Linked DNA regions of Homo sapiens. The protein of the gene in region 4 interacts with the protein of the main gene of each other region in a pairwise test. Each region holds a gene or a part of one and is shown on either strand. Other genes may lie near its edges. The genes, in order: NCAPH2, CTBP2, RBBP8NL, EGLN3 and IKZF3.

Region 1 (5,654 bases), on a different chromosome or scaffold from region 4:
TGTTAGCCAGGATGGTCTCGATCTCCTGACCTCGTGATCCGCCTGCCTTGGCCTCCCAAAGTGCTGGGATTACAGGCGTGAGCCACCGCGCCCGGCCTCTTTTTTGTTTTTAAATAAAGAGGGACTTCATATGGCAAGGAAAAGGAGAAAAAAAAAATCAGAGAGGAGGATCTTACTGTGTTGCCCAGGCTGGTCTCAAACTGCTGTGCTCAAGCAGTCCTCCTGCCTCAGCTTCTCAGGTAGCTGGGACTATAGCTGTGCACCACCACACCTGGCTGGGAATATTCTTTCAATGACTGAGTTTGTTTTCTTTTCTTTTTTTGAGATGGAGTCTTGCTCTGTTGCCCGGGCTGGAGTACAATGGCAGAATCTTGGCTCACTGCAACCTCCGACTCCCAGGTTCAAGCAATTCTCCTGCCTTGGCCTCCCGAGTAGCTGGGATTACAGGCATGCACCACCACGTCCAGTTAATTTTTGTATTTTTAGTAGAGATGGGTTTCGCCACATTGGCCAGGCTGGTCTCAAACTCCTGACCTCAGGTGATCCAGCCAGCTCTGCCTCTTTCCAAAGTGCTGGGATTACAGACGTGAGCCACCACGCCTGGCTGACTGAGTCCTTTTCATTCTTAAGGTCTTAGTGTAAATGTCAGCTGACCACCCTATCTAAAATAGTCCTCTCCATCTCAGCACCTTACACACTTTAGAATGTTTATCATAAACCATTTAAATTTTTTTTTTTTTTGAGATGGAGTCTTACTCTGTCGCCCAGGCTGGAGTGCAGTGGCATGATCTCAGCTCACTGCAAGCTCTGCCTTCTGGGTTCACGCCATTTTCCTGCCTCAGCTTCCCGAGTAGCTGGGACTACAGGCACCTGCCACCACACCCGGCTAATGTTTTGTATTTTTAGTAGAGACGGGGTTTTACCGTGTTAGCCAGGATGGTCTCGATCTCCTGACCTGGTGATCCGCCCGTGTCGGTGTCCCAAAGTGCTGGGATTACAGGCATGAGCCACCGCGCCCAGCCAAAAAAAATTTTATTTATTTATATGTTTTTTTTTTGAGATGGAGTCTCACTCTGTCACCCAGGCTGGAGTGCAGTGGTGCAATCTCAGCTTGCTGCAGCCTCCACCTTCTGGGTTCAAGCAGTTCTCCTGCCTCAGCCTCTTTTTTTTTTTTTTTTTTTTTTGAGACGGAGTCTCACTCTGTCGCCCAGGCTGGAGTGCAGTGGTGCAATCTCGGCTCACTGCAAGCTCCACCTCCTGGGTTCACACCATTCTCCTGCCTCAGCCTCCCGAGTAGCTGGGACTACTGGCACCCGCCACCACGCCCGGCTAATTTTTTGTATTTTTTTAGTAGAGACGGGGTTTCACCGTGTTAGCCAGGATGGTCTCGATCTCCTGACCTCATGATCCACCCGCCTCGGCCTCCCAAAGTGCTGGGATTACAGGCCTGAGCCACCGCGTCCGATCCTGCCTCAGCCTCTTGAGTAGCCGGGATTACAGGCGCCTGCCACCACGCCTGGCTAATTTTTTTTTTTTTCTTGAGACAGAGTCTTGCCCTGTGGCCCAAGTTGGAGTGCAGTGGCACAATCTCGGCTCACTGCAAGCTCCATCTCCTGGGTTCGCGCCATTCTCCTACTTCAGCCTCCTCAGTAGCTGGGATTACAGGCGCCCGCCACCACGCCTGGCTAATTTTTTTGTATTTTTCAGTAGAGACAGGGTTTCACCATGTTAGCCAGGATGGTCTTGGTCTCCTGACCTCGTGATCCACCCGCCTCGGCCTCCCAAAATGCTGGGATTACAGGTGTGAGCCACCGTGCCTGGCCCCAGCTAATTTTTGTATTTTTAGTAGAGATGGGGTTTCACCATGTTGGCCAGGCTGGTCTTGAACTCTTGACCTCGTGATCCGCCCACCTCATCCTTTGAAAGTGCTGGGATTGCAGGTGTGAGCCACTGCGACTGGCCACAAGCCATTCTTCAACTCATTTACCTGTTTGTGGCCTGTCTCCACCCTAGAATGTGAATTCTGCCAGGGCAGGGACCATACTTATGCCCTCTTTTGTCTGCTTAGTAGAGTGCCTGGCACATAGGTGTGGACGTTAAAGTGTTTGTTAAATGCACATGTGATCTGATGACCAAACTTCTCTGCTCTCATGCATAGTTGGCTGAGAAAATACGGGGAACTGTGCTGGGCAGAGCTCCTGTGGATTCAGGTTTTCACATCAAGCAGGGTCCATGAGGACACCTGTTCACTTGGTAAATCTCCTTCCTGGCTTGGTCAGCTCCCTTCCTGCTTTCTTATGTCTGCTCTTCCAAACCTCTGCAGCTTGAAGTCCTGATTTCCTGGTTTCTAGTATTATCTTTTTCCTTCTGTCATTTTCCACACACTACCATGATGTTCTTTTTCTTTTTTTTGTCCTTTGTTTTTTTTTTTTTGTTTTTTTTTTTTAGATAGGTTCTTGCCCTGTTGCCCAGGCTAGAGTGCAGTGGTGCAATCATGGCTCACTGCAGCCTCGATCTCCCAGGCTCAAGTGATCCTCCCATCTCCCAAGTAGCTGGGACTGCAGGCATGTGCCACCGCACCTGGCTAATTTTTTGTATTTTTGGTAGAGATGGGGTGTCACTGTGTTGCCCAGGCTGTTCTCAAACTCCCAAGCTCAAGTGATCCACCTGCCTTGGCCTCCCAGAGTGCTGGGATTATAGGTGTGAGCCATTGCACTGGCCAGAATGTTCTTCTAGTACTGTCATGATCCTACTCTCTTTTATCCATTTATTTATTCATTGTTGTTAGTTGTGAATTGTGTGCCAAGAACCATGTTAAACTTTGAAAAAATAGTGCCAAGCAAAGCAAATGATAATCCCCACTATGGTAGGACTTCCTCTGTCATGGGAAGACGGGTCCAAGAGAGTAACCGCATGGGGGTGTAATAAATATGCATTTGGTGTTTACTTGTGTTAAGCACCTGTTTTATGTGCTTTACACATATGAATGCAGAGTCCTCACAAAAACCTTGTTAGTAGAGGCGTTAGAGATGTACTCTGAATGATAGTGGTTCCTGGCAGATCAGAATCCAGCCTCCACCCCTGCGTGTGACTTTGTGTAGTCAGAAACTGATGGCCAGGCGAGGTGGCTAACGCCTGTGATCCCAGCACTTTGGGGGGCCAAGGTGGCTCACGCCTGTGATCCCAGCAGTTTGGGGGGCCAAGGTGGCTCACGCCTGTGATCCCAGCACTTTGGGGAGCCGAGGTGGCTCACGCCTGTGATCCCAGCACTTTGGGGGGCCGAGGTGGCTCACGCCTGTGATCCCAGCACTTAGGGAGGCCGAGGTGGCTCACGCCTGTGATCCCAGCACTTAGGGAGGCCGAGGTGGCTTACGCCTGTAATGCTAGCACTTTGGGAGGCCGAGGCAGGAGGATCATTTGAGGTCAGGAGTTCGAGATGAGTCTGACCAGCATGGTGAAAACCTGTCTCTGCTAAAAGTACAAAAAAAATTAGCCAGGTATGGTGGTGCATGCCTGTAGTCCCAGTTACTTGGGAGGCTGAGGCAGGAAAATCACTTGAACCTGGGAGGCAGGGGTTGCAGTGAGCCGAGATTGTGCCACTGCACTCCAGCCTGGACAACAGAGCGAGAGACTGTCTCAAAAACAAAAACCAAAACCAACCAACCAACCGAAAAAATCACCAGAAACTTATAAGGGATTTGAAAGAAAATGTATGGTCCTGTGGAGAGTTTGGGGGGCTTAGTTTGTTTGAGATGAAAGCAGTTACTTATTTATGGTGAGCTAAAGAATGTTTAGCTCCAGGTGGAGGAAACCTGGTGTTGGAAGGATTGGAGTTTTTACAAAAATTAGCCGGGCGCCTATAATCCCAGCTACTCAGGAAGCTTAGGCAGGGAGAATTACTTGAACCCAGGAGGCGGAGGTTGCAGTGAGCTGAGATTGCGCCCCTGCATTCCAGCTTGGGTGACAGAGTGAGACTCCGTCTCAAACAAAACAAAACAAAACAAAACAGAAGGTTCCAAGTTGGGACCATAGAGCAGAGGAGGGCAGGCAGCTGGAGAGGGAGGCTGGCCAGCATGGAGGCCTCCCTCTGGCTCCGTTTAGGATTTTGGGTTTTTCCTGCCACTGTTAGGAAAAACCCAAAATCCTAAACAGAGGCACTGAGCAGAGCGTGGAGAGTGGACGGGAGGGGAGTGAAGGGCAGGAGGAGCCCTGTCAGTGCAGAGGTGAAAGGGGAGGTGGTGGGGCCAGAATGGGGGTGACTGTGGAGAGGAACCCCTGGGTTTCTGGGCAGGTGGGTTGGGGGCTATTTGGAGTTCAGTGTGGATGCATTCAGTATGAATCTTGGTGAAGCCATCCAAGCGATGTTTGAAGAAGGCAGCTGAACATGTGGGTTTGGGCTCAGATGGCAGGTCCAACCTGGGGAGGTGAGAAGACAAGTGAAGCCCAGTAGTGTCTTGGGAGTGGGCAAGCCAGCCAGGCTGAGGGTCACTGGAGAGAAGGGCCACTTCTGCAGCTCAGCTTCCAGGCCGCCATCTCCTCCATGTTCCCTTCTTTCTGGACCAGCTCTTCAGGTCCTGAACACCCCCGAGGTCCTTACACTCCGTAGACGACCATGCTGCTGTTTCCTCTCCCTTCCTCCCAGATCTGACAAACACCCTTTATCCTTCAAGAGCTAATGGAAGTGACTCCCCTTGGGGATGGCTTCCCAGCCTCTGCCACTCCTTCGTGCTACCATGGTGCCTAAAATCTTGCCTCTCCCCAGCACGCGCCATGCTTTGGCCATGTTTAGATCATGCTCATTTTCCTGAAGAGACGTGTCCAGTCTCTGCTAGCTGCCTTCACGTTCCCTTCATCTGTCTGGTGAGCCTCTGCGTTTTTCAGGCTTAGCTTTGACATTATCTATGCATGTGTTCATCAAATATTTACTGGACACCAGTGTCAGGCACTGAACAGAAGGCTGGAATTACACTAATGCTGCTCACACAGTTCACTAAGGGACACGATCACACTAAGGGAGCGGCACAGAGGCCCCAGGAATGGAGGGGCTCTGAAAAAGAGTTTGCGTGGGGACAGCTGGGGGTCGGTGTTCCAGGCAGATGGAAATGCAAAATTGAAGAGCTGGAAAGACACCTAGGGGCTTCAAAGTGTCGTTTGTGGCTGGGCACGGTGGTGCATGCCTGTGATCCCAGTGCTTTGGGAGGCTGAGGCAGGAGGATCACTGGAGGCCAGGAGTTTGAGACCAACCTGGGCAACATAGAGAAACCCTGTCTCTACAAAAACATTTTTTTTTTGAGACGGAGTCTCGCTCTGTCGCCCAGGCTGGAGTGCAGTGGCGCGATCTCGGCTCACTGCAAGCTCCGCCTCCCAGGTTCATGCCATTCTCCTGCCTCAGCCTCCCGAGTAGCTGGGACTACAGGCGCCCGCCACCACGCCCAGCTAATTTTTTGTATTTTTAGTAGAGACGAGGTTTCACCGTGTTAGCCAGGATGGTCTCGATCTCCTGACCTCATGATCTGCCCGCCTCGGCCTCCCAAAGTGCTGGGATTACAGGTGTGAGCCACCGCACCCGGCCTTTTTTTTTTTTTTTTTTTTAAAGTGTCATTTGCTGAGAAGGAATACAGGAGATGAGCCAGCGTTGGGGAAGATGTTGGGTA
Region 2 (5,654 bases), on a different chromosome or scaffold from region 4:
GAGGCTGCTGGCAATGGCCTACGTCGTCATACCGGGCTTCCTTGCCCTGTCCGGGGTAAACAATCCTTCTGTGTATTTACCCCCTTTTTTCTTTAAAGATTGGAGATCGGGTTAAGTTCTTAGAGAGTCTGATGCGAGTGGCTGGAAGGATAGACAAGAGAATTCTATTCTATAAATATGCATTGGGAATTTAAAATGCTAAACGCCTTATTTGCAATTCTGTTGGATATTCTAGAGACTGGTATATTTTTATCTGACATGGATAATTTTGAGGGGACGTTATATTTTGGGGAAGTTTACAAAGTGATTCTTTCTGCCTTTCTAACTTGGGCGAAATATATCGACTCATACCACCCTTTCAAAAAAGATAGCTTTCTCTACTAGGTGTTTGGGTTCGAAGACAGTTTAAAAATTACCTCGTGTTCAGTACCTAAGATTGCTGTTTTGCCTCGAGGGTTTTCCAAGTAGAAGTGGGTAGTTTTCATGTACTTTGAGAATTCTGAGGTTTTTAACCCCCCCCTTTTTTTTTAAATATAAATCTTTTCTATTTTGAAGTAATGAGACTTTAAAGGATCTTGTTTTTGTAATCACTTGATTTCAAAGGATACTTCTTACAGCAATTATAAAGTAATAGTCAAAATGCTAATTAGACATTTTCAGTCATAGCTGCTTTAATGTTGAAACAGAATTTTTTTCTTTAGCAGAGACTGTATCGTAGAGTTGAAACGCTAAATATTCTTTTGTCTGGCATCAGATCTCTGAACTGCTCTGACATTCTCCTGAAAAACCCCTAGTGCCCTTTTTATTGCCCCCAAAAGAAAAGTTAATGAGATGGTAGATTTCAAGCAAAAAAACAGGCCCTCTTTCTTGCAAAATATGCTTACAGTTGCCATTGAAGTTGGATGTTAGCCGTGAATGCACTTGCCTTTAATGAAACCAGTTTAATCGTTCACACTTGATCAAGTATAACATGAGCAAACAAAGGAAATAAGCCAGCATATTTCTGTAGAGTGTAAGTGTTGATGTTGGGTCACCCCCTCCCCCTACCCTGCCCCCCTGTAAAAGGGAGAGAGGGTTGAAGGCAAAGGGAATTTATGGCGCTGATTGGTTTTTTGTGCCCCAGGGGTAGGGGACCCCAGTTACATCCCTGTGGAAAGCAGTTATTAGAGGGAATTAAAAGATCTTGGGTTTGGAGCTTGTTTTGAACCTGACTAGGTGGTTTGGGTTTAATTCTTTTTCCTGTTCAGAAAGATAAGGTAAAGAATACCGACTCCCCCCCGCTCTTTTTTTTTTTTTAACCCCCACCTGACAACCCCCTCTCTAATTGTACCTTAATAAGAGTCTGCAGGTTGAATGCAGAACCCTGTGAGTTATTTACGGTTTCGCCTGGGAGCTTTGAAACTGACCCTTGAATGGGTGTTCTCCTGCGGGGAGGGGCAGGGTGAATTACCTTTTCTTAACTGATTTTAAAAAGCCTCATTGTCCCTAAAAATCATTTCCTTGCACGAGTTGCAATTTATGTGTGGAACTGAATCATCAATTCCGTGAAGAGAAAGATATTCGTAAAGTACATCTCTCTAAAGTTAAGAAAGTAAGAACGTTTGGCTAGTTAAAAACAAACACTACTGCCATTGTAAAAAACACGCCAGTGACATACTTGGTGAGATATTTTGGCCTTTTGAGAGTCGGGGCACACCTGTTCCTGTCCCTGCCAAGTTGTGTGTGCTTTCCCTGCCATTGTTAATCTGGTCGTGTACACAAGATGAAACGGTAAAACTTGCTATCTGTATAATTATTAACTAGTTTGTCAGTTACCCTTTCAGAGAATAATCAATAACTTCAGTCTTAACTTTTAAAACTCCAGAAATTTTACTTTTTAAGTCTGGAAAATGTTTCAAAGAGAGATTAAATGAAACAAACAAACAGCAACAACAAACAACAAAACCAGAAAATCAACCTACAACTTTTTAGTTTCTGAGTAGCCAGCTACAAGGCAAAGAAATGATGAATATATATAGTATGTACTGAACAAGCAGTGCACTGGATTTTAAAATGATATTTTTATTGTTACCATTGCTGTTAAAATACAAACAGCTCACACTATTTGAAATCCTTGAGATTCACGGATTGAAAAAAAACCGAAAAGGACACCTCTGAGTGAGGGAGTAGCCCTGCTGAGATCTAGCACCAGAATGCCATTTGCCAACAGTTCACTAACATCATGAATCATTTTTGAAAGCAAAGTTATACCCTTTGCACTTAACGCTTTCCCTAAATGGAAAAAATTTAAAGAGTTTACAGCAATGGTAGAATGGCAGCCCCAGTTGTCATTTTTTTACCACTGTCATTTCCATAGAGAGGGGCTGTCATCATAATGTATGTGCATGCAGCCTGGGTCCCTCTGTTAATCTATCAGGGAAAAGCAGCAGCCCTAGTGTCCTGTGGCCCTGAATCAGGCCACAAATATATATTCATACAGCACATGGTTGGGAAGGGAAATTTATCAGTTGGGCAGGGCACAGCTCAGGTAATATTTCCACTTTGGGATGGTAGGTCTGTTACACAGGGTGGAACATATTTTTGTAGTAACTAAAAAATGGGAGGGCAGTGTGTCTGTCCCTGGAAAAAGAAGTATTTGTACTTAATGGAAGTGACCCATGTGGTGAAATCTCGGGGTGTCTTTTCCCCAGCAATCTTTCTATGAATTGCTAGGGGAGGAATGCTTGTGTGAACTTACCCTGCTGAAAACTTTTAGTGGGCACATGAAATGCTGGAATGGATACACTTTTAGAGACTGTGCGGCCTGGCAGATATCAGTTTTCTCCCTTACAGCTGGTAAGCATGTCTTAATTTACGCTGCTGCAAGTTAAAGTTACAGCACTCCTGGAAAGAAGGGAAAATGCAAGGCTTCTCCTCCCCACCTCATCTTTTGAAGTTAATTTTCATTCAAGTCTGTGTTTGATGGAATATGTATCAAAGACTTATGAAAGAGTTTTTTTTTTTTTAATCCTATCTTGGGGTTTGGAAAATTATATTTAATAATTGCTAAAAACTTAAGAACCATTTTAAAGGTGTTCAGTGGCCCTTTTGATCATGATTTAATGGAGAGTATCCAAAAGCCATCAGTGTGACTCTAATGATATTCACAAATTAATGTTTGGGCATAATCTGGAGTTTGCTTTTAGCTATCATTATTAATGTTTAAAGCCTAAATTATGGCTGCACTTGGGCATTCAGAACTTCGCCTGTGAAAAGAAGGGCTTTGCACATTGTGTAAAAAAAAAAAGGGGGGATTCACAAATGAATACAGAATGTACAATAGGGAGAGAGCCAGGCCATTGTTTGTGTGGAATGTTGACCATGGGAGCCAAGGGCTAGTTTCGCCTTCATTCTTCTGACTGCTGGAGAACACAGAAACTTCAGGAGCTGTGGACGGGATGGGAACCAGGGGCACATTCATCCGTCTTTGCCGGGCATGGAGATTTGGCCTGCCCCCTTTCCAGAGTTTTTCTTAGAAGGTGGTCTTTTCTGGACTGCTAAGGAACGTCGTGTGCTTTCTCTTCTCAGTAATCTGCTTTTTTGAGGAACGATTTTAACGGCAGATAGTAAGAGTTCCTCAAGGAAAGTAAACAGACCTTTTCTACCCCCTCGAAATGTGATTTTAGGAAATGATATTCAACTTCAGAAAGGAGGCATCTTAAGTCACAGGAGGAAGTTGTGTTTATTTTTACTCCTCTCCTGACTTTAAAGTAGTTTTTAATCTGTTGGTAGCATTAGGGAGAATGCAGCTAAAATAAGTTTTTGCTGGATGTTCATGTTTTGCGTAGCTGCTGCCATTTCGGAAAAAGCTCCTCCCCCATTCACAAAGCCCTTCTCCTTCCACGTGGGAGCCGAGGTCCCAAAGTGGAACCAACTCTGTAGCTTAAGGGAGGTGCATTCCTGGCCCCTCACTTTCTAACCCTCACCTTAAGTGGAATATGTAGATAATATGTAGATCATTAACCATTGTTGGTGTCTGAAGCCTGTTCAGTTTTTTTAGCAACGACACTCGGTGAGAACCAGTTGTAGTTTGCATGTGTATATGCCTAGTCCCTCCCTCAGTGAATGTTTTAGAAAGTGATCTGCTTTAGCTGTTTACCTAACTAAATTTAACAGATGGTTGCCTAGAGTTGGCTTAATATTCACAAAAATTGTGATGAAATGGTTGGGATCTTATGAATGGGACAAGTGATGATTTTGTTTCTATAGAGAATTGTGACTTTTGTCCTAGGTAATAATAGAGACTTCGTTTTTCCCAAAGATCGGTTGGTGTTTAAAGGATGGGAACCCTGAATAGCTGCTGTTGTCTGCCCCTGATCCTGGTGGTGGCCAGCCTTGCCTTTGGTTTTGTTGCCTTCTGTGAGTCCAGAAAAGCCCTGGAGGCAGGGGTGAGGGGGGAGAGGGAGGGCTGGGCTTTTCATCCGTGGGGTTCTAAAAATCCTTCTCATTTATAAAATACAAAAATACTTACCTTCCATTGTATTGCTGATTTGTGCTTCCTCCAAAGCTCTCCTCTGATCAGCAGAAATGTGCTTCTTGCATTAAAACAAATCCTTAATTATGACTAAAAGAAACTGTCAGCTGCCTTAAAGATTGTCTGGAAATAGTGGCAATATTTCTGTGTCTCATTCCAGCCCACGTTGTGGCAGAAGCCTGGAAGGGCCACGTTAAAGGATGTGTCACAGAGACAGTGTGTGTAGGTCTTCCTGCAGCACAAGCAAGCTCAGGGCTTGTAAAGTCCAGCTTATCGTGGCTGTGCTCCAGCCATGCCTGAAATCTGGCCTCCAGCAATCTGTCCCGTCCCAGGACAAACAAAAACTTTATTATGGAGTCATGGAACCTGAGGAAGTTTCTCTGGAAGGAACCGAAGACCTAGACCGTGGAGGGAGATCAACTCCTCTGGCCTAATGGGGCTTTTCTTTTTCCAAGATGGAATTTAAAAATCTCATCTATAAAATGAGGCTAGCAAAGAATCATTTTATGGTGTAAGTGGCCAGAATCTAACCTGGAAGTGATAGTATTGTACCTGCCGCAGGTGTGTGTGTGGCAGCGGGAGGGTGGAGAGGGGAAATGAGAGGAGAAGAGTTTGGAGGGGAAAACAGAGCATTCGAGGTTTCTCTGCTGGAGGGGGTGAAAGGCCAGGAGTTTGTGCACCTTTCCTTTTAAATGAGCTCTAGCTGTGAGTTTATTATTTTGCTGATGGATGGTCTTTCGTGCAGTCTAGAAGTGCAAACACAGTCGGCTTATCCGCTGCTTGTTCAGGTCCAGGGAGACCAAGGGAACGGGTGGGGGCAGTGCTTGCAAATCCATCTGGATCCTGGACACCCCACTTGGTGTTGCTGCAGCCAGCTCCCAGGCCTGCCCACCTGGAGTACAGCCAGCGCCAGCAGCGGGCAGGGCCCGAGAGAGCTCTTAAAGCCATGTCCCAGGAACGGTTGAGGGAACTGAGAATGTTCAGCCTGGAGTGGAGACACCCCTGGGAAGCCCAACATTGTCCTCTGTGCGGTCATGTGGCCTTACTCTGCTCGGAACAGGGAGGCCTTGCTGTTGGAGCTGCCGGGCCAGATGGGCTGCGTGGGCTCCTGGCACAGGCAGAACTTGGCTGACCATTGGCT
Region 3 (6,092 bases), on a different chromosome or scaffold from region 4:
CTGGGTTGTGCCCAGCTCCTGGGGCTGTGGGTCTGCATGCTCTGCCTGTGTGGACTGGGGCGTCCTCCCCATGGCTCTGGTGCACCCAGCTGCACTGGCTTTTCCTGGCCAAGGGGGCCCCTGGGAGGAAGATGTCAGAGCCGGGGCCTCCCTGGGCTCAAGCAGCTGAGGAGGGCCAGGAGGGGGCGGAGCTGCAGCTCCTGAAACTCCCCCCAGACCCGCCCAACAGGCCACTCTTCCCTGGCCCCCAGCATCTGCCATGTGGGCTGGGCCGACGCCCATAAAGGAGCCGCCCAAGGGAGCCCATGGTGCCTGCGGGCCTGGGAGAGGTCTCTGGGGTCCACACGAGAGGTGGGCTTCCTTCCCAGTGAAGTCACTGTGGTGCAGAGGCTGGGACGGAGCCTCTGCTGTGCCTCCCACTCACAGGATCCTTTCTGTGCCCGAAACCACCTGCAGCACTCCTAGAGTGCTGGAGAGCTCCGGGGAAGGGATGGGAGGTGGAGGGAAGTTGCAAGCCTTGGTGCTTTTGGGGAGAAGAAATGAACCAGGATTGTAGAAATTCACCCAGACCCGCACCCGCAGCCTTGAGCCAGGGGTCAGCAGCGGGGTCAGTGGGGCTGGCTTTTTCTTCCCGAGTCAGCCTTCTCTGGGTTTGTTGGGCTTGCCAAGGGCAGCTAGGGGTGCTGGGGCTGGGGGAACTCGGAAGGAGGGTCTCCTCCAGGCCTGGGTGGGGGCTGCAGTGGGGCTGTGATGGGGGAGCAAGCCTACCGGGGCGGGGAGGGGCTGGGCTGAGGCTCATGGGGGGCTTCACAGGGCTGGGGTGAGAGAGCTGAGCTCTGGTCCAGGGTCACCCTCAGCCACTCCTCCCACTCCCAGACCCTCCCACTCGGGAGTCCAGGCTGGAGGGTCTCTGTGGGTGCTGAGCCCCCTGGAAGGAGTGGGGGAAGGGGAGGGCAGGCTAGTGAGCCGCTGTCCCACCTGCTGCTTGCAGCTGGGCCGTGGGGGGGGCAGGTGTGAGGGGCGCATGTCTGTCCCCCTCGACACCACTCTCACCCCACCATGCCTTGCCCTCTGCTCCATTTTGCCACTGAGAACACGACCCAGAGGTGGCGTCTTGCCCACGGTCAAAGCTAGTGAGAGCCGGGCTGGGCTTCAGCTAACCCAGGCCGGCAGCTCCGCCTCCTGCAGTGAGGTGCTACTGGTGCCAGCACCTTTGCCTTCGGGGGACTGCTCCTTAAAACCAAGGGGCGACGTGCTGCTCTCACCAGAACGGAACAGAGCCCATCCAGTAAACGGGTGCCTCTTATCCCCCGGACAGGGCCCAGGAGAGCCCTCCATGGGGAGCCTGAGGCTGGCAGACCACCTTCCACCTCATGTCCTCATCCAGGGAATGGACATGCACTGTGGGCCCTGCCTGTCCCTCAGGACTCCCACCTCCCTCTAAAGGCCCCCCAGAGCCTGCACCTGCCCTCCTAGGGTCTCCACCCACTCTCCCAGGGCACTCTGGAGTGGCCACTCAGAGGGGGCAGAGGTTTGCTGTTGTTAATCCTACCTCACGCATTCTCAGAGCCCCAGCAGAGAGGGTGCACCCCCCCCACCCGCTGAGCTGGCTGGGGCGGGGCAGGGGTCGCATTCCTGAAGGGTGCTGGCTGGAGAGTCAGTCTGGGCGGAGGGTAAAGGTGTGGGCTTCCCAGTCAGCAGCCCTGGTGGGGCTCTCGGACCCATCTCTGCTCTCTATGCGGCCTTGGGCAAGTTGCTTTTCCTCTCTGAGCCTGTTTCCTCACCTGGGGGTGACAGCACCCCTGCCCCTGTATCAGGCTGCTTAGAAGCTCCTCACAGGTAATGCCTGTGTGGCCAGGAGCTCCGTAGACAGGAGCGCTCAGTGAGCAGCCGAGGGAGACCCCGATTCACCTGCGCCTCCCTCATGACCTGCGCCTCCCTCATGTGGGACCCCAGGTGTCCAGCAGTGCTGACGGCAGGACCCTCTGTGCTTGGACAAGGTCAAGTCTCATTGCCACAAAGGCCTTGTGCAGGAGGACGCAGCCCTCCCCACGCTCAGGGCAGAGGTCCGGCTTCTGACGGTGATGACACTCATCCTTGGACGGCTGCTCACTACGGACTCCAATGGGCTCACGGCATCTCTGTGGCTACACCCAGGGGAGATGCCACCTGCCTCCCACACACAGGCCAGGGAATCACAGGCCCAGCTGTGGCCCTGGCAGGACTGGACATTGTCCGGCCGAGTGCCAAAACCCACAGTGATGCCTGTTCTTACCCTGTCCTCTGGGAGGCCGGGCCCCCTGAGCTCCTCTGCTGTCTGAGCAGGAGGCATCCGGGGCATCACTGGGCTCCCCGCCTCTCCGAGGGCACTCAACCAGAGAAGCCGCCTGGGCACCAGTGCTCCAAGGACGTCTGCCAGGCCGGCTGCTCTCCACCCCAGCCACCGACCCCCAGCAGGCTCTTTGGGGCAGGAGTGCGGAGCTGGACACTGGTACCCTCCGTCTCTGAGGCCTGGGCTGTCTGTATGTCCATCTGACTGACTGCCCACCTATCCAGGAGCAACGGTGATGGCCACAGCAGTAGCAGTGGCAGTGGCAGTGGCATAGCAGTGGCAGTGGCATAGCAGTGGCAGTGACAGTAGCAGTAGCAGTGGCAGTGGGAGTGGCATAGCAGTGGCAGTGGCAGTAGCAGTGGCAGTGGGAGTGGCAGTGGCAGTGGCAGCGGCAGTGGCATTAGCAGTGGCAGTGGCAGTGGTAGCAGTAGCAGTGGCAGTGGTGACAGTGGCAGTGGAAGTAGCAGCGGCAGCGGCAGTGGCAGTGGCATTAGCAGTGGCAGTGGCAGTGGTAGCAGTAGCAGTGGCAGTGGTGACAGTGGCAGTGGAAGCAGCGGCAGCGGCAGTGGCAGTGGCATTAGCAGTGGCAGTGGCAGTGGCTGCTGTTGATCACATACTGTTCTGTGTCAAGCACCACACCAGGCTTTTTCCCACTTGCATGGGCACTGAAACCATCCTGCAGCTTTGCTGAGGAAGCCAAGCTCAGAGTGGTGCCCTCTGCACCTTGACCCGCTTCTCCCCAAGGGATTCCCCTGCCCCTGTCCACCTCCTGGCTGCCCCTGTGGAACACCCACTGCATAGCTAGGTTGGGCACATGCATGTGGCCGGGGCCCACCTGGCCTTGGAGGAAGTGCTGATTGTCTCATTCTACAGGTTTGGACACTGAGGCTTGAAGCAGATCAGAGATGAGCAGGTGGAGCAAGATTTGGACCTGGACATGGCCTCAGAGTCTCCTCCCACCCTCTGTGGTAATGGGCAAAGCCTCTCCCATGGAGACTTCGGCCAGGTCGCTTGTCTGGCCGTGCCTCAGTTTCTGTGACTGTAGAACAGATGTTGGTGGTGAGCCCTGACCCAGGCTCCTGTGCACACACCGCCGCAGGGCCCCCGGGACAGCTGCACACGCATGTTGTGTGTGCACATGCACTCGTGTACCCCACACGCGCGTGCGCCCGTGCACTCGTGTGTACACATAAACAGAGGAGCCAGCCGAGGTGTCCCTGCAGCTCAGGCACAGCAGCCCTGCAACCTGACTCCCTCCCGGAGGTGGAGGTGGGCCGGGCTGCTCTCCTGCCCTGCCGGCTGGCTCCCTGAGGCCTGGCCCGTGGGGGAGGGGGTTGAGCAAGGCCCGCCTTTGTGGCTGCTTCCCCACAGACACAGCGGCAGAGGAGTCCCCTGCTCAGTGCCCAGCTGCGGGTGCTGCACCCCTGCACCACCCTCACCCCTGTGGCTGCGCCCGCTTATCCTCTTGTGAACCTGGATGGTGGGGCGGGACAGGCCCAGGGTGGAGGGCGAGGCCACCAGCCTGTCCCTGATGCCCCAAGCCCCTCAGCAGACCATGGACACTTCCTGGGCCCTGGTGCCAGACTAGGCCTGGCCTCTTTGCACCCAGCTCCTGCCAGGAACGCCCACTGAGCTCTCTCCGTTGCTAGGTCCCTGGACCAGGAGCAGCCTTGTGCCACCCCTTAGGGAAGACGTCCAGTCCCACCCACCCCCGCGGCTCTCCTCGCAGGAGTCCAAGCTGGGCCTCCAGCCTCCCTGGTGAGCACCCCAGCCAGGGATCCCAGCTCACCCGGCTACTTGGGTGGCCTGGCCCCGGGGTCCCGGGTACTCACATGGCTCCTGGCCCTGCCTCAACCTCTGTCGACCTCTGCGCGGAGTCCCCCACGCTCTTCACAGGGAGAGAGAAGTGAGCGGGCTGTGAACCTGCACAGGCAACAAGACAGGATTTTGGCCAAACCCGCTTGACAGGTTTTCGATTCTCCCAGCCAGGAGCAGAAAGGAGGCAGAGACTGCCCTGAGCCGCCAGGCGGGTTCTGCCATCTCGCAGAAAGTGGCCGGACAGGTTGGGTCTGAAGCCACATAGAGTTGGGATTGTTTCCTCATAATCACTGTGAGGCTGGGCTGCAGGAGCCAAGCTGGTTAGCACTGAGAATCCAGTTTGGTGCCTGTGACACGGAGGGCCCGGGCGGGGAAGGGTGGGGGGCTTGCAGGGGTGCCTGGGTCGGGGGCTGCAGGTGGGAGTGAGCAAATGTGCTGTCTCGCCACCTCGGGACAGGTGGTAGGGCCTCTGACACAGAGTGGTCCTTCCTGCTGTTCACAGCTCAGCTCACCGTGGGCTGACCATAGGTAGGTGACAGTCCCCTTTCTGGCCTCGGTTTCCCTGTCTGTAAATTGGGGATAATAAGCTCAAGAGCTGTCCCTGCCAGAACCCAGTGGACAGAAATCCAGCAGCTGCTATGGGAAGCGACCCGCCCAGCCTGCCCCGCCCTGCCTGGGGAAGCAGGCCTTCTGCTTGAGGGGGACTGGGCGCATGCTGGGCCTCTGGTCTGCGCAGTCTGCCCGGGGTCTGTGAGTGCTTGTGAGTGGGCTTCTCCAGTCTCCAGGTAGGCTGGGTGCCCCCGGCCAGGTGGAGCCCAGGGGGGCAAATAGGCTGGGGGCTGGCCTGGCCCCGGGTGGCACGGCCCAGGTGCTGGAGCAGCCTCACACTGTGGTCTCGTGTGTGTTCCCTGGACAGCAACACTGTGGCTGCGGGGTACAGCCCTGACCCCCTCATGCCTTGCCCCCTGTGTCCTACCCACGACCCCTCCCCACTCCCTCCTCCCCGCCTCCACCTCCGCCTCTGCCTCATCCTCAGCCTGTCTTAGCTCTGCACGGAAGCAGAGCGGGGGTTCCCGAGTCCTTGGGGCCATGATCCCCAGCGCACCCGAGTACCCCAGGAATGCACGGGGCTCAGAGGAGGAAGCCTGGGAGCCTGGCCTGTAGCCGCTGCCGCGAGGGGAGGACGGACTTCCTGCTCCCTGGCAGGGCCCCTGCTGGTGGCTGGTGGCCAGCTCTGGGTTTGGGATGAGGGCTGGGTCATCTCTGGCCCCACGATGCCCTCCCACTCAGGACCAGGCTCTTGGGAGGGGGTTGTGGTCAGCATGGGCCACTCCAGCTCTGGCTGGCCTGGGAACTTCGTGGAGGCCCCTCCTCCGGCCACCTCCCTGTTCCTGGCTGGGCCCTTTGTGAGTGGGGTCTGCTTGCTGCTGGCGTGTGTTTTGTGTGTGCCTGTGTGGGGACTGTGTGCACGTGTGTGTGTGTGTGTGTGTGGGGATACGAATGTGTGTGCATGTCTTACATGTGTGTGCCTGTGTGTGCATGTGTTGCACGTGTGTGTGTGCACATGTGTGCGTGGACATGTGTAGCTGCTTTGTGCTGTGGTCTGGATGTTTTTTGTGTCTACCCCAGATTCTCGTTGAAATCCTAACGCCCCAGGCAATGATGTTAGGAGGCGGGGCTTCTGGGAGATGGCAAGTTCGTGAGGCTGCAGCTCTGCTGGGGGATCAGTGTCCTTCTACAAGCGGCTCCAGGGAGGTCCCTTGCCCCTTCCACCATGTGAGGACCCGAGATGGTGCCGTCTATGAACCGGGAAGTGAGTCCTCTCCGGACGTGGAACAAGTTGGTGCCTTGATTTTGAACTTGCAGCCTCCAGGTATGAATGTGAGCTCTGGGCTCACTGCCTGTGGGGAGCCCTGCCTCACAAGGAGGGGTCCCTCTGCAT
Region 4 (5,654 bases):
CAAAACTACAAAACACTTAAGTAGAATTGGGTCTCTGAAGAAGAGACGTTCTACAGCTTCAGTTGAGGGGAAGACAAACATAACACATCATCTTTAAAAATAGCTAACATTTATTAAGCACTTAGTGTGTGCCAGGCCGTGCATTAAGCATTTTACATGGATTATCTCCCTGAGTCTGCATAAACCCATTTTACAGATGAAGAAACCAAGGTGTAAATGAGCTAAATGCAGATTATCCCGTACTTAGGTTGCATTTTATTCAAAGTACGCTTTGCTCAAGACCATGCTTAATTCAAAATGAATCCTTACAAAGGTTGGCTGGTATTTCTACTTAGCAGCTGGAGGGGATCTAGCATTTGTCGGTAGATCAGAATACTAGTTTAAAGCTCCTTCAACCAGATAGTTTTGAAATCACGCTTTTCTCAACAAATCTTAAACAATGGATTTTCATTTATTGGAAATTTTGCAAATAAAATGAGATCTAATTAGTACTTTAATTTGGTGAGTTAAATTTTGTATAAAATGCCACTTTATTATAACTTGTTCAAGATCGAGTCATACTAGTGAATCTGTCTCAAATCATGAGCAATGTAAAATACATTTCTATGAAAATACATGTTGCAACTGTTAGCAGAGAAGTGGTAACGGCAGGGTGGGTGTATCCCCTTCTCACCTGTGGGTCTGAAAAATGATCATCATTGCCTAGTGGATGGTGGAGGTCACTGATGCCAAGTTTTTGAAATGGTTTTTACATGCAGTCAAGCTGCGGTTGATGGCATTCAAGAGCATTCTGTTTAGGCATTGGAATGGAAATCCTGGACTTTTATTTTTCAACTTTACCTTTGGACTTGATGAGATAGGTTTTTTTTTTTTTTTTATGAAGTCAGCTCACTGGTAACTCTTAACAGAACCACTGTTTCCTTTTCCACCTGTGGCATTTGGGGACCACTTTTTTATACTGGGTTTTGACTGTTACGGTTCTATATATCTGTGTATATCTTCAAAGGATACATATACGTTTGTTGTCTGGACATGGCTGCATACGTGTCTAGAGCACATATTCTGGTCTAGAGCCAGCCTGGGCCGGCCTGATTCACCTCTCCACTCATTTCCTATTGCTACAGAGCTAAGGAGAGGCCTCTGGGAATGGGGATGGTGGGAGGTGGGGTGGGTACACTATATAATGTCAGTGGACAGAGCGGTAAATGTGTAAGGGGACATGTGGATTTATCAGTATATCCAAGAATAGAACTATAGGACTATACTGTATGTGCTGCTGTAGATGACACTACTGTGTTAAACTTGCGTAAACTTCAAATATTAATCTAGTCAGGAAGTTTTAGAAAATAAAAAGCCTGTACTAAAGTAGGCATCCTCTTGATATGTGTCAGTTTATTGCTTGGCATGTTTGTTATATGATCATTAAATTACTCTGGCCCGTTCTTTTAACAATAAAGCATTGAAGACTTCTCTTCTGTTAAACACTAAATCCCTTCCCCGGCTTGATGAGGTTTAGATAGCAACTCAGTTGGACTGATCTGTTTCCGGAGTTTGTTACTGCCCCGTGCACAAATTGGCACAGAAGTGAATGGCTAGTTATTGAAGTCAGGCTTGCTTCTCGGTGCATCCTTAGCCTCATGGTTTTAGACCCTGTCAAAGACGAGCAAATAGTTGGGAATGTGCCCAAGCAAAGACCCATCTCCTATGGCACTCATCCAGAAAACACACTGATAAAATTGGCCAAATGTAGCCTCAACTGGCCCACTGATGCTCGAAATGATTTCCTTCCATTGTTTCCAACTTGATGCATGTGGTTTCTGGAACCAGGAGAGAGGGTGAATGTTCACTCTGGCCAGAAAAATTATCTCTTTGCCTCCCTCTTAAGCAGTCGGATACTTTGCTGACATGTAGGGGTTTTGTCCTAATAGTAAGTCCTCTGGAATTGGCTTTGTCTCTGTGTGTTTTATAGATGCGGCATTTGGTAGAGGATTTACTTTTGTGAGTTTGTATCCATCTTTTTTTTTTTTTTCAATATTTTAATCTGAGCTGAGTTCTGAGGCAGAGAAACACTCCTTAATGACCTGAAGAACTATGTTGCTTTTTCAAGGGTTGATGCTTAGATCAAGTCTTAGATCTTCTTGGGCCTTTGACAGCTGCGTAACCCAATCCCCTCTTTATAGGAAAGAGACAGCCTGGGATCACAGTTAGTTGCAGAGTGAACTATGGCAGGCATCCAGACCACTGACCTTTTCCTTAGAGAAGAGCTGTTTAAGCATATAAGATTATAGCATTGATGTCATACTTTTTCTTTTCAGACACACTCAGTGGGGGGAGCCTGAGATAATAGGGAATCCAGCCTGTAATTGTTTGTGGCTTAAGCGACTTTCATTATTGGCTCTGTGGTGGCTCTTATAATCCTAATAGCTGCTTCCAGGGGTGGGTAATTCTTTAGTCATTATAGGTGACTTTATTTGTCTCTTCTTCTCTTGCTAGGCCCATCAATTCTGTTTGCTACCAATCACCCTTCCTCAAGCCATGCTTTGCTTAGTGGTACCATCATTTGTTAAATCTTCATTGCTGACGTCGCCTCACAGTTTCACCTTCTGAAAGATGTTCAAGCTAACAGCCTAACTTGAGCTCTAAGGATGACATCACATTGACATTTTGATGTTCAAAGGCAGGATATGGGGATTGTTTGCTGCATGAGGATATGAAGTTTGAGAGAGATGGTGATTTAAGCTTTAAAATTGTTGTAAAGTCCAGTTACTATTCAGCCTTATTATTGATCTGGCATGCAAGGTGTGTTTTGCCTAGTTCCGTGTTTTCATGCTACTATTGAGAGTGACTCGGCAGCCACGTTGAAGCTGATTCATTGAACCACTAGCCCATTAGCTTGGGGCTCTACTCAAACGGTCATTTTACCAATGAAGCAACGCTGCCATTTATCAGGAAATATATGGCCTGGATCTTTACATGTATGTTTGAAGATAGGTCTTTTAAAATGACAGAAATAGCTATTGATCTAGGTAAAATGTGAACTTACTCTTTAGAGAAAGAGCCATTCGCTAGTTCATTGATTTATTTATCACATTTTAGATGGACACCTTCTGTATGTCAGGCACTGTCCTAGGTGCTAAGAATACATCAGTGAGTAGAACAGGAAAAAAAATCCCTGTCCTCATCTTGTGTTGCTGGTTCTAATATTTTCCTTGCACCTACTGCATCCCTATAAAAAATATTTTTCAAACATGGCGGTATCCTGTGAAGAAAAGAACTGGCTTTCTATACTTTGCTTTCTTCCCCCTCCCCACTCTGTGTTATAATTTTTCCCTTGGAACAATTAGAGGTCTGTTTACTCTAATGGTAATTTTCAGTAGGATTTTTGGTACGGTTTTCTACTTTATTCTTCCACCTGGTTGATACAGGTAGCACTTAGACAAAGAGAACTTCAGATTATCACCTGATTACATAATTATCAGGAAGAAGACACATATTAAGATACATGCATGGCTTTTTTCCTGAAAGGAATCTCCCTGTGTTGTCTGTGTTAACAAGTTAGGGTGCGGCTTCCTATTGATCTTCCTCTATTCTTTCTATCCTGAGCATTTTATTGAGTAAGCCTGACCTTTTCCTCCTTTGGTGATTAGTTCTGTCACTTTGTGTATGCAAATACCTTTAGCCATTGTTCTGAAACAGTGTGAGTGATTCAGCAGCACTTGCTAAACAGTCATAATCCCTAAACTCCACACCTAGTGACTCTGATTTTGTAGCATGGGAAACTAGAAACTGCTTTTCCAAAAAGGAGTATTGAAGAAAGGCAGGGCATACAAACAGGTTATGCAAACAGGGCATGCAGATAGGTTACTTTAAGAAAGACTGTGTAAAATGTTCTAGAACTGTGGGAATATTGTTGAACTACTTTCCACTGGGCAGAGCCATAGTATGACCTGGCCATTGTGCACAGAAGAGTCCAAATTTATGTACCATACATGAAATTAAGAAGCCAGCAACTACCTGTAAATGTCACGTAACACCCAAGGAGACTGTGTTACTTATCTGCTCACCAGTGGGAGGAGAAGATTGTCTGTCTCAGCTTTGTTAACCAGCTTTCTTGGGATTTCTCCATAGGCAATGGTGGCTTGCTATCCGGGAAATGGAACAGGTTATGTTCGCCACGTGGACAACCCCAACGGTGATGGTCGCTGCATCACCTGCATCTACTATCTGAACAAGAATTGGGATGCCAAGGTACTTTTGAATAATGGGAGTAGAGTGTGGGGTTAGAAACTACAGGAAAATGATTCAGATAACTTAGAGGAGAGTTTATATTGAGTTCATAGTTGCCGTATCTCCCACTGATGAAACATTTCTATTTCCATTTCATAACCTCCTGCGACAATGGAATTAGTCCTAAAGTTGTTAAGAAGAAAACAATGAAGTTAATTTGGAGTGGGGTAGGTAGGGTGATTATTAACCCTACCTCTGGGAAGGGTGGTTGATGAAGGGAAGGTAATTTGATATTAGGATTAAGGATTAATTTTTTTCAGTTTAATTCAGAGTTGTTCTGACTCAATGCAGAATAGGATATACACTTTTCCCTCCCAGCAGCAGCATTGAGAAAGTTCCACAAAAATAGAACTGTAGGCTATAAAACCATCCCCAAGAGAGATTTCCCACACAGTCCTCTCCCTCGGGGTGGTATGTCTCATTGATGGCTGCTTGCCATGGCTTACTATGGTTTGTGAATGCCAAAGGCTTTGTGGCTTATTTTTGTATTATAGAACTTATAGATAGATGGAGATATGAAGCCTGGTTCCATGCTTACAGACATTCATCTGGACTCTGTATGCTTTCCGAAAGTTAAGAATGATTTAGGAGTCTGGGAAGTCAGATAACTTTTCAAGCTTATTTGGCTTTTGAACCTTCTGCATCTCAATTTCCTGTTCATTAGGCAAATACTGGCTGTCATAAAGCAATAATATTTATCCAGAGTCAGAAAAACGAAACTTGGGAAACCATTGAATCAGTGAAAAGGCCTATCTCTTCTCCCTGTTTGGTAACATGACTGGAATACATCCATTAAGTCTCCTTTAAAATCTTGAGAGGTGCTGATAGAGACAAGAGAATAAAGTTATCAGACTGGTAATAATAAATTGCAAGGTCTGGAATCATTTAACAAATATTTGAGTTCCTGCTAGTGTCAGGCGTTGTATTATGAAGAAACATTGATGTGTGAGGCCTGAACTTTACTCTGAATATGGTTATTCTAGTAGGATGAAATAGGTTGACATGTAAAAAAAATAATTCAAGGAAGAGAGTGGTGTATGTCATAAAAGGTGCAGATTAGGTGGTCTGAGAGTTCAGTAAAAAGAGCATGTAACTTCCAACTAATGAGGTCAGATAGGAGCTAAGGGAGTTCAGAAGAGCTGTAAATTCTAATTGAAGGGGAAGTTACATGTGATGATTTTCTTAGAAAGTTGTTAATGGTTAGATGGAACCATGTGAGATCACTGGGCATTTTTTTTTAAGTCAAAAACACTCAAATATTGGCAAATCGGTATGATTCAATCTAATAGTACTCTATTTTACGTCCATGGGCTTTATGACTGTGGGGGGTGGGAGTGCTTTTTTTGGTTTAAGGTGAATAAGGAGAT
Region 5 (5,654 bases), on a different chromosome or scaffold from region 4:
AGGAGGCTAATGCAATGATATATTCATACACCAGGAATTTATGGGATGTCTACTTTATGTAGGGCACTGCATCTAACTCGAGGCAGTGGCTCTCAAACTCCATTGTGCATAAGGTTTATCTGGAGAGCATGGTTTTAAATGAACATTTCCAGTCTCCACCCCCAGATTAGTAGATCTATGGTAGGAGCCCCAAATTTTCTATTTTAAAACCACATAACCTCTGGTCTTACAGATACAGGTTAAGCAGTGTCATAGGGAATACTGAGTTAAACACACACACACACACACACACACGCACACACACACACAATCTGTATAGCTTCTGCCCTCAGCTAGTTTACATATTTATTGGGGAGACTAGGGGAGGTGAGTTCATAAGTAACCCAGGAAGAAGGAGCAGGCTATTTTCCAGCTGGGTTGATCAGAGAAGGCATAGTAGCCAGGAGACAGCATATTAGTTTGACCTTTAAAAATGTGTAGGACAGTGGCCAGGCGCAGTGGCTCATGCCTGTAATCCCAGCACTTTGGGAGGCCGAGGCCGGCGGATCACGAGGTCAGGAGATTGAGACCATCCTGGCTAACACAGTGAAACCCTGTCTCTACTAAAAATACAAAAAATTAGCTGGGTATGGTGGTGGGCGCCTGTAGTCCCAGCTACTCAGGAGGCTGAGCCAAGAGAATGGCATGAACCCGGGAGGCAGAAGTTGCAGTGAGCAGAGATCGCACCACTGCACTCCAGCCTGAGAGACAGAGAAAGACTCCGTCTCAAAAAAAAAAAAAAAATACGTAGGATGTGTAGGACTTGGACCTGTGGCCATATTGGGGAAAGATCTTTTAGGCAGTAGAAATAAGACTACTTAGAAGCTCTTTAGTTAAAGATCTAACTAGTCAAAATTAATATGCCAAAGATAGGTTGGGGCCAGATCCCGAAAGGCCTTTTAAATTATTTGTTTCTGAGTTTGGACTTTATTTTGTTGGCAGTGGAAAATATTGAAGAATTTTGACAGGGCTATGACATGACCAGAGGTAGAATTTAGGAAGAGCAATCTTGTAGCAACAAACAAGACGGGCTGGAAAGGAGAAAGAAGGGAGCCAAAGAGAACAGTGCGGGGGCTACAGCAATAAGTAGATCGTGGGAAAGTCATAGGGTCTGAGAATTAGGTAATGGGCATGCAAAATACAGGAGTGGAGAAACAGATTAGAGATTGGATACACAGATAGAACCACTGAATGATTGAATGTGGGGCCCAATCAGGAGAAAGGAAAGATGACTCTAAGGATTCTAGCCTGAGTAACTGGGAAGATACCTAGGAAGCCTTCAGAAATAGAGGACTAAAGAAAGGGAGAGAGGTTACACCTGGAGTTATATATATGGAAATTAATCATATAAGATGTTAGTCGAAGCCTTAAGAATGAATGAAATTGCCATACAAGAGGGGTGTAGAGGGAAGAAAAAAGAAGGTTAAGGACAGTATTTAGGATGCAGAGGGAAGAAAAGGGGCAAGAAGGAAGCAATCAGAAAGGCAAGGAAAGAAGGTACATTTTCATTGAAGAAATAGGAGTGCAGGGGCCGGGCACGGTGGCTCATGCCTGTAATCCCAACACTTTGGGAGGCCAAGACAGGTGGATCACCTGAAGTCAGGAGTTCGAGACCAGCCTGGCCAACATGGTAAAACCCTGTCTCTACTAAAAATACAGAAATTAGCCAGGTGTGGTGGCACGTGCCTATAGTCCCAGCTACTCGGGAGGCTGAGGCAGGAGAATCGCTTGGACCTGGGAAGCAGAGGTTGCAGTGAGCCGAGATCGCACCACTGTACTCTAGCCTGGGCAACAGAGTGAGACTCTGTCTCAAAAAAAAAAAAAAAGAAAGAAAGAAAAGACATAGGAGTGCAGAAGAACAAGGAATGGTGAGTGGTCAGTAGTGTTGAGGATTACAAAGAAGTTGGAGAGAGTGGCATACAAAAAGGCTCTGAATCTAGGAATCAGGAGATTATGGTTGGTGATATTCAAGGGAGCAGATTAAGTGAATTGTGGAGGCGGAAGCCATATTACAGAGAATTCTGAGTCCTTTTTGAGGCTGTAGAGGCAGTAAGCATAGCTTACCTATGTCTTTTTTTTTTTTTCTTGAGACGGAGTCTCACTTTGTCACCCAAGCTGGAGTGCAGTGGTGGGATCTCAGCTCACTGCAACCTCCACTTCCCAGGTTCAAGCGATTCTCCTGCCTCAGCCTCTTGAGTAGCTGGGACTATAGGCGCACACCACCACGCCTGGCTAATTTTTTTGTATTTTTAGTAGAGATGGGGTTTCACCATGTTAGTCAGGATGGTCTCGATCTCCTGACCTCATGATCCACCCGCCTCGGCCTCCCAAAGTGCTGGAATTACAGGTGTGAGCCACCGCTCCTGGACCACCTGTGTCTTAAATCTGTCTAGAAAGGAATGTTGAGGCCGAGCGCAGTGGCTCACTCCTGTAATCCCAGCAGTTTGGGAGGCCGAGGTGGGTGGATCACGAGGTCAGGAGTTCAAGACCAGCCTGGCCAAGATGGTGAAACCCCGTCTCTACTAAAAAAAAAAAATTAAAAAAATAGCCAGGTGTGGTGGTGGGCACCTGTAATCCCAGCTACTCAGGAGGCTGAGGCAGGAGAATCGCTTGAACCAGGGAGGCAGAGGTTGCAGTGAGCCGAGATCACACCACTGCTCTCCAGCCTGGGCAACAGAGTGAGACTCTGACTCAAAAAAAAAAAAAAAAGAAAGGAATGTTGAGAGAGGATGAATTTAGGTATGATGTGATGAAAGGTGAAACCAAATTGCAAAAGGAAAGGAAAAGAGGAGTTGGCACCTAGAGAGCCTGAAGACATAGAGTTGATAGATCTTGGAGACTGACTTGATGTAGAAATTGAAAGAGAAAAGGTTCCACAGTTTGATGGCTTGGAGACTGGAAGAAGGGTGATGCCATTTGTCAACATAAATAAGTCATAAATTAGAAGCAAGTTTGGGTTCAAAGATGACAAGTTTGATTTTAGACATGTTCATTAGTATTTTCTAATAGAATTTTTCTAAGTAGAACACCCCTTTTCTCTGCTTCAATAAGTCTTCCAGGGAATGGGATGAATCTCTTCATTAGAGCAGGCTAATGCCTTTCCTGGTTTTGGTGGACTGTGTTTGGAGGCTGAGTACTAAGCCTAATATCTCTCAGGAATCTCATTCATACCTTAAATTCTAATTTATTTTATTTTATTTTATCTTTTTTGAGATGGCGTCTCGCTCTGTCGCCCAGGCTGGAGTGCAGTGGTACGATCTCGGGTCACTGCAACCTCCACCTCCCAGGTTGAAGCGATTATCCTGCCTCAGCCTCCCCAGTAGCTGGGAGCCACCATGCCCAGCTAATTTTCTATATTTTTAGTGGAGACGGGGTTTTGCTATGTTGACCAGGCTGGTCTCAAACTCCTGACCTCAAGTGATCCACCTGCCTTGGCCTCCCAAAGTGCTGAGATTACAGGCATGAGCCACTATGCCCAGCCAGCAATTTATTATGGCTTACCTTGAGAAGGTAACAGAGTTGAATATTAGAATAAATTAGAATCTGGTTGGACACGGTGGCTCAGGCCTGTAATCCCAGCACTTTGGGAGGCCAAGGAGGGTGGATCACTTGAGGTCAGGAGTTCGAGACCAGCCTGGCCAACATGGCGAAACCCCGTCTTTACTAAAAACACAAAAATCAGCCAGGCATTGTGGTGCATGCCTGTAATCCCAGCTACTCGGGAGGCTGAGGCAGGAGAATCACTTGAACCTGGGAAGCAGAGGTGGCAGTGAGCTGATCGTGCCACTACACTCCAGGCTGGGCAACAGAGCAAGACTATGTCTCAAAAAATAAAATAGAATAAAATAAAAATAAGTTGCTAATCCCCAGTAACCATGCAGAGAGGTCATCCAGGTCATTCATCTAAAACTGGTAAGACTCCAAAGGCAAACCAGCAACTATGTAAGCCCAAAGGACTTCTCTAATGCCCTGTCCCTGTGTCCTTATGTCCCTGGGTCTCAAATACTGTCTTCCTTGCTCTATAGCTGACTCCTAAAGGACTAAAGCTAAGATCTGCTCTTGAGCCAGGATGGTGTCGTATTGAATTCCAGGTCAGGCCAACTAAAGCCAAAATCCTGAGGGAAAGGAGCAGCTCTCTTATGTCCTCTGTTTTCAGAAAGACTCAACACATTGATCTTACTACATTTTAAAGTTCAGTGACCATGGAGTGGCCTGAGTCTGGTCATGTTCACATTTTCTAACCAAAATGGAAAGGATCCTTTTCTGCTGGCCTTTTCTATCTGCTGTTTTTGGTTTTAAGTAGCTGAAATTTTCCGTTGAGGTTCTTTTAAACGCCTACATGCAAACTGAAGAGCACTCAAGCTTTGGTGGGATATTACCCACAGCTGGAGTGATGGAGGAAGGGAGGCAAGTACAAGCCTCAGGTGCATCCTTCTCTTAAAAAAATAAAAAATAAACACTTAAGCAAACAAATTCCACTTGAAAGCAGGGAAGACCTATCCAGAGAAAGAAGTAAACCTCTTTCCAAGTAGGAAACAGATATCATTTCTTATATAATCCAGATCCATAGGGTGGGCAAATTTGAAACATGTTGGACTTATCCTACAGCCCTACATCTTTGCTAGTCAAAGAGTGAAAAGTTGTGAACCATGAACTGTGGTAGGAAGCAGTGGAACTGTGTGGCAGCCCTGGCTCCTCTGATGGTGGTTAGGCCCTGTCTTGCTCTATTAAGCAAACACAGTTAATATAGATGAAAGGTAACCTTGATAGAAGTGAAAATTGAAACTTGGGTTGAAGGTAGCAAGCCAGGCACAGCTGCAGTTGTACTTCCTCCTATGCAGCAAGAGGAGCAACACTTACTGATGTTTTTTGGAAGGGATGTAGTTTTTTAAAATATCTTTTTTCAGACTGTTTTGGGTTTTAACATTTACACCATTGATGGGAGGGTGTGTAATACAGTTGGTAAGAACCCACTTAGGCCTTATATGTCTAGTGCATGAGGTCAAATCCAAGTAATTGATAGTTCAAGCTTAAGTTTTGCATTCTAATCACACCTCTGCCAGTAACTGGATGTGTAACCTTCGACAAATGACCAAAAACATCTCTGCTCCCAGATTTCCTCATCTGAGAAACAAGAGGGTTGGATTAGATGACCTTTAAATTCCCTTCCAGCCCTACACTCCATTGATTTGTGATTCCTCATGGGGAGGTACAACTTTTGATTTCTAAGGACCAATGGTTGAAAAAGTAAGCATTTATATAGCATATTTTATATATGCAAAATCCCTTACAAATGTTTATTATTCTTACATCAGGCAAATTTTTAGGTTTTACTAGTGTCAGTGCAAGTACATAAATTTGCCTTCTTTGTTTCTTATGTTCTTCATATTTTTCCCACGTTCTTCATATGTTCTTATGCTCTTCATGAAGAGTATTACAGCTCTTCTTTTAAATTTCATTCATTTACATTGCAGTTCTTAAGATAGTACTTGGTCAGCCAACTCACTTGAGCCAGTCCCTCCTCTCCTATCCAGTCCTATTACACAATCCTTGAGTCCTTGAGTTTAGTTCTCCCTAACTTGGGACCTAATGGTCCTTCCCCTTATTTAGATTGA

The links.
Region 1: the proteins of EGLN3 (region 4) and NCAPH2 interact in binary tests that used the Homo sapiens proteins (3 or more experiments, as listed by UniProt).
Region 2: the proteins of EGLN3 (region 4) and CTBP2 interact in binary tests that used the Homo sapiens proteins (3 or more experiments, as listed by UniProt).
Region 3: the proteins of EGLN3 (region 4) and RBBP8NL interact in binary tests that used the Homo sapiens proteins (3 or more experiments, as listed by UniProt).
Region 5: the proteins of EGLN3 (region 4) and IKZF3 interact in binary tests that used the Homo sapiens proteins (3 or more experiments, as listed by UniProt).

Annotation. Positions count from the first base shown.
Region 1 is NC_000022.11:50,510,124-50,515,777, forward strand, and holds part of NCAPH2 (condensin-2 complex subunit H2), read left to right. Parts: intron 1-5,596; exon of another isoform or gene 5,597-5,624; coding exon of another isoform or gene 5,625-5,651; intron 5,652-5,654. UniProt on the Homo sapiens protein: Regulatory subunit of the condensin-2 complex, a complex that seems to provide chromosomes with an additional level of organization and rigidity and in establishing mitotic chromosome architecture.
Region 2 is NC_000010.11:125,153,036-125,158,689, reverse strand, and holds part of CTBP2 (C-terminal-binding protein 2), read left to right. Parts: exon of another isoform or gene 1-55; intron 56-5,654. UniProt on the Homo sapiens protein: Corepressor targeting diverse transcription regulators. Functions in brown adipose tissue (BAT) differentiation. Isoform 2 probably acts as a scaffold for specialized synapses.
Region 3 is NC_000020.11:62,423,296-62,429,387, forward strand, and holds the start of RBBP8NL (RBBP8 N-terminal-like protein), read right to left. Parts: upstream 4,245-6,092; 5' UTR 4,165-4,244; intron 1-4,164.
Region 4 is NC_000014.9:33,929,690-33,935,343, reverse strand, and holds part of EGLN3 (prolyl hydroxylase EGLN3), read left to right. Parts: intron 1-4,128; coding exon 4,129-4,248; intron 4,249-5,654. UniProt on the Homo sapiens protein: Prolyl hydroxylase that mediates hydroxylation of proline residues in target proteins, such as PKM, TELO2, ATF4 and HIF1A. Target proteins are preferentially recognized via a LXXLAP motif.
Region 5 is NC_000017.11:39,793,637-39,799,290, reverse strand, and holds part of IKZF3 (zinc finger protein Aiolos), read left to right. Parts: intron 1-5,654. UniProt on the Homo sapiens protein: Transcription factor that plays an important role in the regulation of lymphocyte differentiation. Plays an essential role in regulation of B-cell differentiation, proliferation and maturation to an effector state.